Linked DNA regions of Homo sapiens. The protein of the gene in region 1 interacts with the protein of each later gene in a pairwise test. Each region holds a gene or a part of one and is shown on either strand. Other genes may lie near its edges.

Region 1 (2,954 bases):
CGCCTCCCGGGTTAACGCCATTCTCCTGCCTCAGCCTCCCGAGTAGCTGGGACTACAGGCGCCTGCCACCACGTCTGGCTAATTTTTTGTGTTTTTAGTAGAGACGGGGTTACACTGTGTTAGCCAGGATGGTCTCGATCACCTGACCTCGTGATCTGCCCGCCTTGGCCTCCCGAAGTGCTGGGATTACAGGCGTGAGCCACTGCGCCCGGCCTTGTCATCTCTTTTCTTAAAACCTCAATGATTATGAACACTGACAAGAATTTGATGATATTAAGGAATGACTTGAGGCTTTTCTTTTAGGTGTGATAAAATTTCAAAGAAGTGTTTATCTTTTAGAAATGTAGAATGAAATATTTATAAGTGAAATGATACATGCTATATATTTATTATATTTATTTGAAATTTCCCATAATTAAAAGGTTAAAAAAATAAAACCTCCAATAGCTTCCTATTGCTCTTAGGATAGATACTAAAATCTCTAAATTGATAAGTTAGTCAGGGCAGTCTAATTGCTGTAACAAGAAACTAAAAAAGCACAATGGTCTAACACAATAGAAATATGTTTCTCATTTGTGTAACAGGTCATTGTGGGCATTTAGTGGACAGCCTTTCATAAGGTAATTTCGTGATCCAGGGTTCTTTCACTTGGAGCTCTTCCATCCATTTGGACCTTAGAGTCCTCTGCTGGGATACCCTGCATCTGCCAGCCAGCAGTGAGAGAAGAGATAAAGTAGAAAATTGTTCAGTTTGAAGGATGTTTATAGTTCAGACCTGGAAGTGACATAGCTGCATTCCATAAGGCCAGACTCAGTGGCAATATCTAACCGTAAGGGAGGCTGGAAAAGGTGACTAAGTGCCCTGGAGGAAAGAGAAATGGATTTGGTGAATAACGGCTGGCCTCTGCCATTCATGTTTTGCATAATCCAGCCCTTGAATACTTGCTTCACTGTGCATTACTTAACTTCTTTTGCATTATTCTTTGCTTTTACTCTATAGGCTTTAATTGCATAGGCTCGTATCAATTGCTCGACTATGCCAGTGTCCCTTCCTTTTCATAGCTTTTTAATGTGCTTATCATGGAATGCTTTATCTTTTTTCCCCATCTAGTTCTTTTCTCATCTTTCAGATCTTAATAGAACATTTCCTCAGGGTGCCCTTCACTTACCTTCCGGACCAAGTCAGCCTCTCTTGTCATATGTAAGATAGTTCCCTGTATCTTTCCTTCATACCCTTACCTCTGTTTGTAATTCAGCTCCACAGTCCCTTATCTTCAATTCTGAAATCTAGAAAGCTCAAAAGGTTTTTTTTTCTTCATAAATTTGTGACAAAATTATTTGTGGCAAAACCTTACCTAAATTGATGTGAGTTTATCAATAGTCTTTATTTAACCCATTTTGTAAGACTATTTATGACTTGCTACAGAATGTTAATGAGTTTCATTATGGAATGCTGACCCAGATTGTTCGAATTATATTCTGAATTTGTAAACGTGGCCCCACAGGTTTTAGGAAAGGGATTTTGAATTTGTAATACATTTTTCAGATGATTATTTATTTAATGTATATCTCTCCCACTAGACTGTAAGGTCCTTGAAGTCAGAGACCATGCCTGTGTTTCTTCATCATTTTACCTTTGCTGTTTAAATCAGTACATAGTAAATAACTTATAAATGTTTGTAAAAAGAATGAATTTGTTTTAACTTGAACCATGGTGATCAAATGTAATAAATCACATAAACTAATTATCATAAAACAAAAAAGTATTGTATTTAGCAGGATATTGGCTTGCCTAAGGATTTTCTCATTGTTTTACTTATTACAGGTGATTCGTTGGAAAAATTCATTGTCTCTAGAGATTGTCAGCTTGGTCCACATCACCAGAAATCTAACTCCCTGAAACCTCTTTCTATGTCCCAGCTGAAGCAATGGAAACATTTTTCTGGAGATCATTTAAATCTTACAGATCCTTTTCTTGAAAGAATAACAGAAAATGTGTCATTCATTTTTCAGAATATAACCACTCAAGCTACTGGCACATAGTGAAAGATTACTTCTGACATTCCATTGCTCTTCTTTTGAAAATTAGTATGGTAATTAAATGTACTTTTTGAAAATTAATAGAATTATTTAAATTACAGTATATGTTGCAAAATATATCACTTTTGATACAATAGTCAAAATTGAGTGGTTTAATGTTTTGTAAATATTAAGTGTTTAAATGAAAAATAAAGATGTGCTTATATCATTGTATAATTGTTAATAATTCCTTGATTAATACACTTTCATTAAGTATCTACTGAGAAATTTTTATAAGGAATATAAAAAGGTAAAATACTCTCTGTCTTTGGGAAAACTAATCTGATTAGAAATATTAGACAGATGTTTGAAACAACTGAAAAACTTGGTAAGTTTAAAATGTAGCTCAAAGGAGAAAGAGAATGAGAGGTTAGGATCGCAAATGCTAAAGATGTTGGATGTAATAGTTGCTGCAGGGCAGTTTGAGTGAGAAAAGTCAATGGGTTAGTGCAGGAGTTGAAGGATTTGGGAACACTTGAGAGCACTAGTTCCTAGTTTGGGACCTCAGACTTATGCAGTCTATAAAGCCATGTCTACCAAATATTGTTTATGCACTGAACAAAGGTTCAGCTACCATCATTTAAGGGTTATCTGGAGTAATTTTTGGCATTGAAAAGAGTGTTTTAGCTGTGCGCAGTGGCTCCAGTTTGTAATCCTAGTTACCTAGTAGGTAGAGGCAGGAGGATTGCTTGAGGCCAATAGTTTGAGACTAACCTGAGCAACACAGTGAGACCCTGACTCTAAAAAACAAACTTAGCCAGATATGGTGGCACATGCCTGTAGTTCCAGCTACGTGGGAGGCTGAGGTAGAAGGATTGCTTGAGCCTAGGAGTTTGAGTTTGCAGTGAACTATGATTGGATATGATCCAATATCCA
Region 2 (7,298 bases), on another chromosome or scaffold:
AGAGGAATGAGGAGAGCCAACTGCGGGGGCTGGGGAGGACCAAAAGGCAAAGCAAGACACCTGAAGTCCGAGCTCACCACCCAGTGAGCTGCAAAGGTCTTAGAGATCATCCATCCCTGCCCTTCATTTTACAGAGGGCGACCAAAGAGGGGAGGCTGTTTGCTCCAGTCCCCACTGCAAGTGAATGGCAGGATGTGGGGCCCTTGACAATTAGTCCACTGTTGGCTGGTGATCTGCTCATTCATTTATGGAAGCGATGGTGATGATGATGATGATAATTCACTCATTCATTCATCAATTCAACCAATGTTTATTGAGCCCTTCCTGCTGGGCATTGGAGTGGCTTTTGCTAAACCCTATTGTCTCATTCATCAATTTATTCATTCATATATTCTAGAAGATGTTTAATGGGCATCCACAGCCTGCCTGGTTTTCTCAGACCCCCGGCTCCTCACGTGGATGCCACGAGGCAGCACCATTGCAAACACTCCTGCACTGGGAAAAGCCGCCCTCTGGCTTCTGCAGCTCTGCTACTAACTACAACTAGGCTTTTTAATTAACCTGGGATGTTAATCCAAAGCCCAAGCAGGCCGGTCCAGTTCAACAGGAAGGACACACGTGAGGGCCTCCAGTTCTTGGGTCGGGGCTCATTTCGTCAGAGAGGCATTGTGGCATCAGGGTGTGGCACGCAGGCTCTGGAGCCCGACCACACGGGGTGCAGACCAGGCTCTGCCCTGCAGCCTTGGGCAGGCCACCCACTGCGTCCATTTGATCATCTGCAGAATGAGGAAGCGACAACACCCTCCTGTGTCGGTCAGAATGTGCTAACCCTTGCTGGGATAAGAAGCAGCAGTCTCAGTGGCTTAAACAGAAAGTTGATGTTCCATGCATGCTCCCTGCCCGCCATGGACAGGCTGTGAGGCCTGTTCCTTGGCATCCTCACTTTGGAGCCCAGGTCCTGGGATGGAGCGACCGCCAGCCAGAGGATCCCTGCAGGAGGAGGGAAGGAATGTGGCTAGTCCCCGCAGGCTTCCTCCCAGGAGCAGTACTGCCACCTCTGCTCACATTTCTTTTTTCTTTTTTTTTTTTTTTTTTGAGGTGGAGTCTTGTTCTCTTGCCCAGCCTGGAGTGTGTAGTGGCGCGATCTTGGCTCACTACAAGCTCTGCCTCCCGGGTTCACACCATTCTCCTGCCTCAGCCTCCCAAGTAGCTGGGATTACAGGCCTCTACCACCACGCCCAGCTAATTTTTCTATTTTTAGTAAAGATGGGGTTTCACCATGTTGGCCAGGCTGGTCTTGAACTCCTGACCTTGTGATTTGCCCACTTTGGCCTCCCAAAGTAAGAACAGTGTTGAATCACTTGAACCTGGGAGGCAGAGGTTGCAGTGAGCCGAGATTGTGCCACTGCACTCCAGCCTGGGTGACAGAGCGAGACTCCGTCTCAAAAAAACAAACAAACAAACAAACAAAAAAAAACGGGTGTAGGGGCTTGGAAGGATGAGCTGACTTCCTTAGGGAGTACTCAGTGGCAAGTCCGGTATTGAAGTTGGGCCTGTCTAACTACAAAGCTTGTACTGTGTGACTCAATCAAGCTGGCCTCTGGTGAGCACATGTGGGAGGCCGGCTCCTTGCAAACTGCCCTGTCCATGTGTTACTGAGGACAACTGTAAACCCAAGTACATGTCTCCTAAGCCATCTCCTGACTTTACAGAGAAATGACTGCAGCCCAGAGAGGGGAGGTGACTTGGTATAGGCCACATAGCCAGGGAACCCCCAGGGAATCAAACAGAAATGAGACCTGGAATTACTTTGTACTGGGGGCTGCAGCTCAGGACCACTGAAGTGACAGTGCATTTTCTACCACTGTTGTCAATCACTCTGTTGAGCGTTCTTTGCAGCCCACAGATGTCCAAGGGTTGCCAGGGGCATAGAGCCCTGCCTTGGGTGGGACCAGGCCCACGCGGGGTGTCGGCCTAATCCAAGGAGGGAGTTCCCTGCCTTGGTAAGTTGGTGCAAGACCCGGAGCTCTTATGCATACACCCAACAGGTGGTGATCCCCCGAGTCCAGCCCACCCGCCCAGCAGTGCGCAGGCAGCCAGGGGTTCAAGGACCCACCCACATCCGTGCCTGACAAGTCTCCCCTCCACCCGACTCCTGCTGCCCTTAGCATATCCTCCCCTCGAGGGCCCCCAGTGAGATTTGCTGGCCTGGGTGTCAGAATGCCCCTGGGGTCACTCGGACCATCTTCTTTAATGTCTTCACCTGCTTAGGCCATCGAGTCAGTGGAAAGGAAAAAGCAAGAGAAAAAGCAAGAACAAGAGGACAACTTGGCCGAGATCACCAACCTCCTGCGTGGGGACCTGCTCTCCGAGAACCCGCAGCAGGCAGCCAGCTCCTTCGGGCCCCACCGCGTGGTCCCTGACCGCTGGAAGGGCATGACCCAGGAGCAGCTGGAGCAGATCCGCCTAGTCCAGAAGCAGCAAATCCAGGAGAAGCTGGTGACTGCCCCGCCCCTTTTTCCAGAGCCCATAGAGCCAGGCTCTTTGCTCCCACTGCCTTCCAGGCACAAATGTAGTTGTAGCAGGCCTTGTGCTCTGCCCTAGCACCTGCCCTCAAGGAGTTTCCCTTCTAGTCGGTGGGAGACAAGAGCCAGATAGTGTCACACCCGTATGATGTGGCATTAGGAGTAGGAGTGCCAAGATAGAGGACAGTAGAATGGGAAGACATTGAAGCAAAGACCCAAAAGAGGGTAGGGAGGGAGCCATGTGTCTACCTGGGAAAAGGGCGACCGGGCAGGGTGAGCTGCAAGGGCAAAGGCCTTGAGGCAGGACCCTGCCAGACCTGCTCAGAGAAGGGCGTGGAGCCTGGTGACTAGAGTGGAGTGAGGAGAGGGGCAGGTACGGAGGCCTCAGAGGCAGACGGTCGAGGTCCTGGCAGTCCACTGGGGAGGACTTTGGCTTCTTCTGTGACGGAGACGGGGAACTCTGCAGGGTTTTGGACAGAGAAGTGACAGGATCTGACTTAGGTTGAACAGGATCCCCAGCGTGATCCCCCTGGATTGAGGGCAGACACTAGGGGCTGAGGGGGAAGGAAGGAGATCTCCAGGAAGGCCTTTGCAGTGTTCACAGCGAGAGGTGATGCTGGCTGGGACCACGGGGCAGGCAGTGGGGGTGCTGAGCAATGGTCAGATTCTGGATCTGTTTTGAAGGTAGAGTCGACAGGATTGGATGCATGATTGGGTGGGGACGTGTGAAAGAGAGGAGTTAAAGGCGACTCTAGGTCCTGTGGCCTGAGCAACTAGAGGGATGGAATTGGCATTTCCAGAGATGGGGAAGGTGGTGGGAGGAGCAGGTTGGTGGGTGGGGAGGGGTGGAAATCAGAGTTACAATTTTGGATACGTCAAGTGTGCAAAGTCCATTAGATATCTGTATCTATTAGGATTACATTTGCCTGAATGTGGCAGAAAACCACACATAACAGCATCTTAAACAAAATAGAACTTTCTCTCTTGCAAGTAGACTAAATCCTCAGGAAAACAGTCCAGGGCTGGTATGGCAGCTCTGTGGTCATTGACTGATGTCCTGCTATCCTTGGCTCCTGGCTCTCACTTCTTAGTGCAAGATGGCTGCTTGAGCACCAGCCATCACATGCATAGTCCAGCTACCAGGAAGGAGGAATGGAGAACACTCTAAGGAGATTTCCACTTACATTTCACTGGACAACACTTAGTCACAAGGTTGCCCCTAACTCTAAAGAAGTCAAGGAAATGCGTTTATTCCAGACAGTGAAGTGCTGGTGATTGTTTTACTAAAGAAGAACGAAAAATGGTTACTGGGAGACAAGTAGTATTTTCTGCCACAATCTCCAATTAAAGCCCAGGAGGCAGCTGGATATGTAACATAGGGCTCAGAACAAGGTCTGGGCCAGAGGCATAAATGTGAGTCGTCACCTACAGAGAGAATGTATGCATGTATTTTGAGACAGTCTCACTCTATCACCCTGGCTGGAGTGCAGTCATGCAGTCTCGGCCCACTGCAACCTCTGCCTCCTGAGTTCAAGCGATTCTCCTGCCTCAGCCTCCCCAGTAGTTGGGATTACAGGCATGCACCACCACACCCAGCTGCTTTTTGTATTTTTTGTAGAGGTAGGGTATCGTCATGTTGGCCAGGCTGGTCTCAAACTCCTGGTCTCAAGTGATCCACCCACCTCAGCCTCCCATAGTGCCGGGATTACAGGCGTGAGCCACCATGCCCGGCCCTACAGAGAGTATTTAAAGCTGAGGACTGAGTCCTGCTCCCACCTCCCCAGCACCCCCCTTCTCACCACCACTGTTGATAAAGAGCAAAGGCATCTGAGAAGGGGCCGCCAGGGAGGTGGACAGATGCAAGCCGTGGTTTCCTGGAGGCCAAGTGAGGAAAGGTGTTTGGGAGGGAAGGAGAGGGGAACCCCTGGGTCAAACGCTGCTGCCATGCTCAGGCTAAACGCTGGATCCAGCACCATGGCAGTCACCAGGGACCCTGTCAGGAAGGAGCATGTTTGGCAGAGGAGTGGGGCTGCCAGCCTAATGGGCTCAAGAGAGAACAGGCAGGAAACGAATGGAGATGGCACATGCAGACAGCACTTACAAGGCGTTTGCTGTAAAGGGTGCAGAGAAATGGAGTAGGAGCTGGTGGGGGCCATGAGGTGAAGGGAAAGTTTTTGTTTGTCTTGATTGTAGAAATAACAGCATGCTTGTCATTCAGCCGGAGTGATGCAGTAGAGGGGGAAATTGATGCCAGAGGAGAGACTTGCTGGAGCCGTGTCCCTGGGCTGCAGGAGAGCGAGGGACATGGAGTGCTAGTTGAGGGCTTGGTGTGGCCTCTGGGAGCTCAGAGCCATCACTGGAGTCACGGGAAGGGGCATCAGGGCGGGAGCTTGCGGGTGAACAGAATTGAGACCTGAGTTGATCTGTACTGGGGGCTGTGGCTCAGGACCACTGAAGTGACCGTCATTTTCTACCTTTTAGAAGTAGAACTGAGCAGGGCCGGGGGGAGTTAGTGCTAAGTGGTCATCTAGAAGAGCTGGAGAGGGAACAGCCTGGAGGAAGGGGACAGGATGGTCAGACAGTGCCCAGGGCCCACTAGGGGGTCATAGTCAGATGACTGGGTCACCCCATAGGTCTGGGTCACCCCATAGTCTGGGTCACCCCAGAGAGCACTGTCAGGGTGTCCCCCACCATGCTTAGCCAGATTCATTGTGGTCACCGCCTGCCTGATCAAGTGAAGGACTCAGGGGGCCGAGGGTATTGGCCTGGGAGCATCTGCCATGAGACGAACCAGGGGGCCAGAGAGAGATTGGAAAAGTGGCGGCCAGCAGACTGGAGGTCACACTTTGCGGGGGGCATAATCATTGGAATCAGGGACTTGGAGAGAGAGTGGAAGAGACAGGTTAGAGCAGTGAGACTGTTATTGGTAATGACAACGGAAGGGTGGAGGGTCCCAAAGGGAGGGTCTCCGGACCCACAGCATCGGCCGGGTGGGGCCTGCAGTCTGTGGTTTCGAAAGCCCCCAGGGGATTCTGATGCCTACTCAAGTTTGAGAACCACTGGTAGGGTGTGCCCAGTGGGTGAGAAGGTGAAGCCGGGACTAGATCTTTGGAGAGGAGGCAGGAGAGCTGAGCAGCTGGGGACAAGAGAGGGCTGTCTCTGTGTGTGCTGAAACCACTGAGAATCCTGGCAGGAGAGATCTGGAGAGGGTCTCAAACCTGCAAAGAGTGGGTGGAAGAGGCCAGGCTGGGGTGGCAGGTGCCATAGTTGGTGTAAGCTTCTGATCTGGTGGGTCTGGGGAGGAGGAGGGACAGTGGCGGTGGCGTGGACCAGGGCATGAGGAGTGGGTGGGGCAGCTCGTCCACCTGCTTCCCTGCAGGCCAGAGGTGCACATGTGTGGGAGGCTGCAGTGGGGCCGGGACCTGGGCAGGCAGGGGGCGTGAAGTTCAGGAAGTAGTCCAAGGTGGAAAGGGCGCCGGGGCTGGAATGGGGGTCCAGGGCCCTGCTCTGTGCTTCAGGACTGCCGCTCTGCCTGGACCATCTGGCACAGGAGATCGGCCGGCCATCCTGAAAGCAGTATTGCTGTCTAGTTTTCATTTTTTGTAGAAAATTAAGAAGACAGAAAAGCACAAAGGGGGAAAAACACACATGAAACCTCCCCACTCAGAACTACTGCCCGCTTCCTTTCTGGGTCCTTGCCTCCATCCCCTTTTCTATGCTTGGAGGTAACTGGGAAAGTTGAGATCTCACCTCAAACAGCTGGGCTGTCTGCTTTGCTCTTAGCCCGGGTGAGTGTGTCCCATGCCATTCCCTGTTTGCCACCAAGCAGCTTGTGTGATGACCCTGGGCTCCTGAGAGCAGCCTGGCTTTACAGCGGGGGACACTGAGGTTCATGAGAGCAGGGTGACTTGCCTCGTGGGTGACAAAGCCCGCCAGCCTGCCTTCAGTCCCAGGATGGGGCCGCCCAGACCCCCGTGCCACTCACCGGACACATCCTTGCTTATTTGGCGGGAGGAGGCTCTGCCCTAAAAATGGCAAACGTGGGCAAAGGGGACTCGTCTTCAGCCCTAACAAAGCTGACAACACACGGGGAAGTACCCCTTCCTCCACACAAATCCAGCTTCCTCTTCCAGGGCTCCAGAGTTTTCACAGTGAGGAGGGCAGTGAGGAATGAGCTGAAACATAGCAACTCAGGGGTTGGGGTGCCCCTCTAGGACCATAACCTTCCTGTCACCGGGTGAGGCTGTGGTGTCTGCATGTTCTGGAAGCTGCCCAGGTGATCTGCGTTCAGCTGTGGGGCAGCCGGCCATGGCTCATGGAGGTGGCATCTGACAGCTGACTGAGCCAGGGAGCCCCCTGAGGACCTGAGAAGGAAGACTCTGGGCCCAGCCTGCACCTGGGAGCCCTGCACCCCGGAGCTGGGAGTGGAGGCTGCTGTAGGAATTGAGTCCCTGCTGTGCCTTTAGGAGAAGGAGGACGGCCAGCACCTCCTGACGGGGGAGGGCAGCTGGGCCACATGGAATGAGGGCAGGCTGGGGGTCTCCTCTGGCTTCCTGCATGACATCGGTCACCTACCTGCTCGTCCTCTGAGCCTCAGTTTCCCCATCTGTAGAATGAGAGGCCAGGCCTCCTAGATAATCCCCTGGGGTTCTTTGGCTCTGGGGAAAGGTGGTGGTGAGCCGCCTCTTTTCCTTCCAGAGGCTCCAGGAAGAAAAGCGCCAGCGAGACCTGGACTGGGACCGGCGGAGGATTCAGGGGGCTCGCGCCACCCTG

Evidence for each region.
Region 2: the proteins of RAD54B (region 1) and RIBC2 interact in a two-hybrid assay, tested with the Homo sapiens proteins (2 studies listed by BioGRID and IntAct).

What each region holds. Positions count from the first base shown.
Region 1 is NC_000008.11:94,371,258-94,374,211, reverse strand, and holds the end of RAD54B (DNA repair and recombination protein RAD54B), read left to right. Parts: intron 1-1,824; coding exon 1,825-2,042; 3' UTR 2,043-2,252; downstream 2,253-2,954. UniProt on the Homo sapiens protein: Involved in DNA repair and mitotic recombination. May play an active role in recombination processes in concert with other members of the RAD52 epistasis group.
Region 2 is NC_000022.11:45,423,677-45,430,974, forward strand, and holds part of RIBC2 (RIB43A-like with coiled-coils protein 2), read left to right. Parts: intron 1-2,271; coding exon 2,272-2,499; intron 2,500-7,223; coding exon 7,224-7,298. UniProt on the Homo sapiens protein: Microtubule inner protein (MIP) part of the dynein-decorated doublet microtubules (DMTs) in cilia axoneme, which is required for motile cilia beating.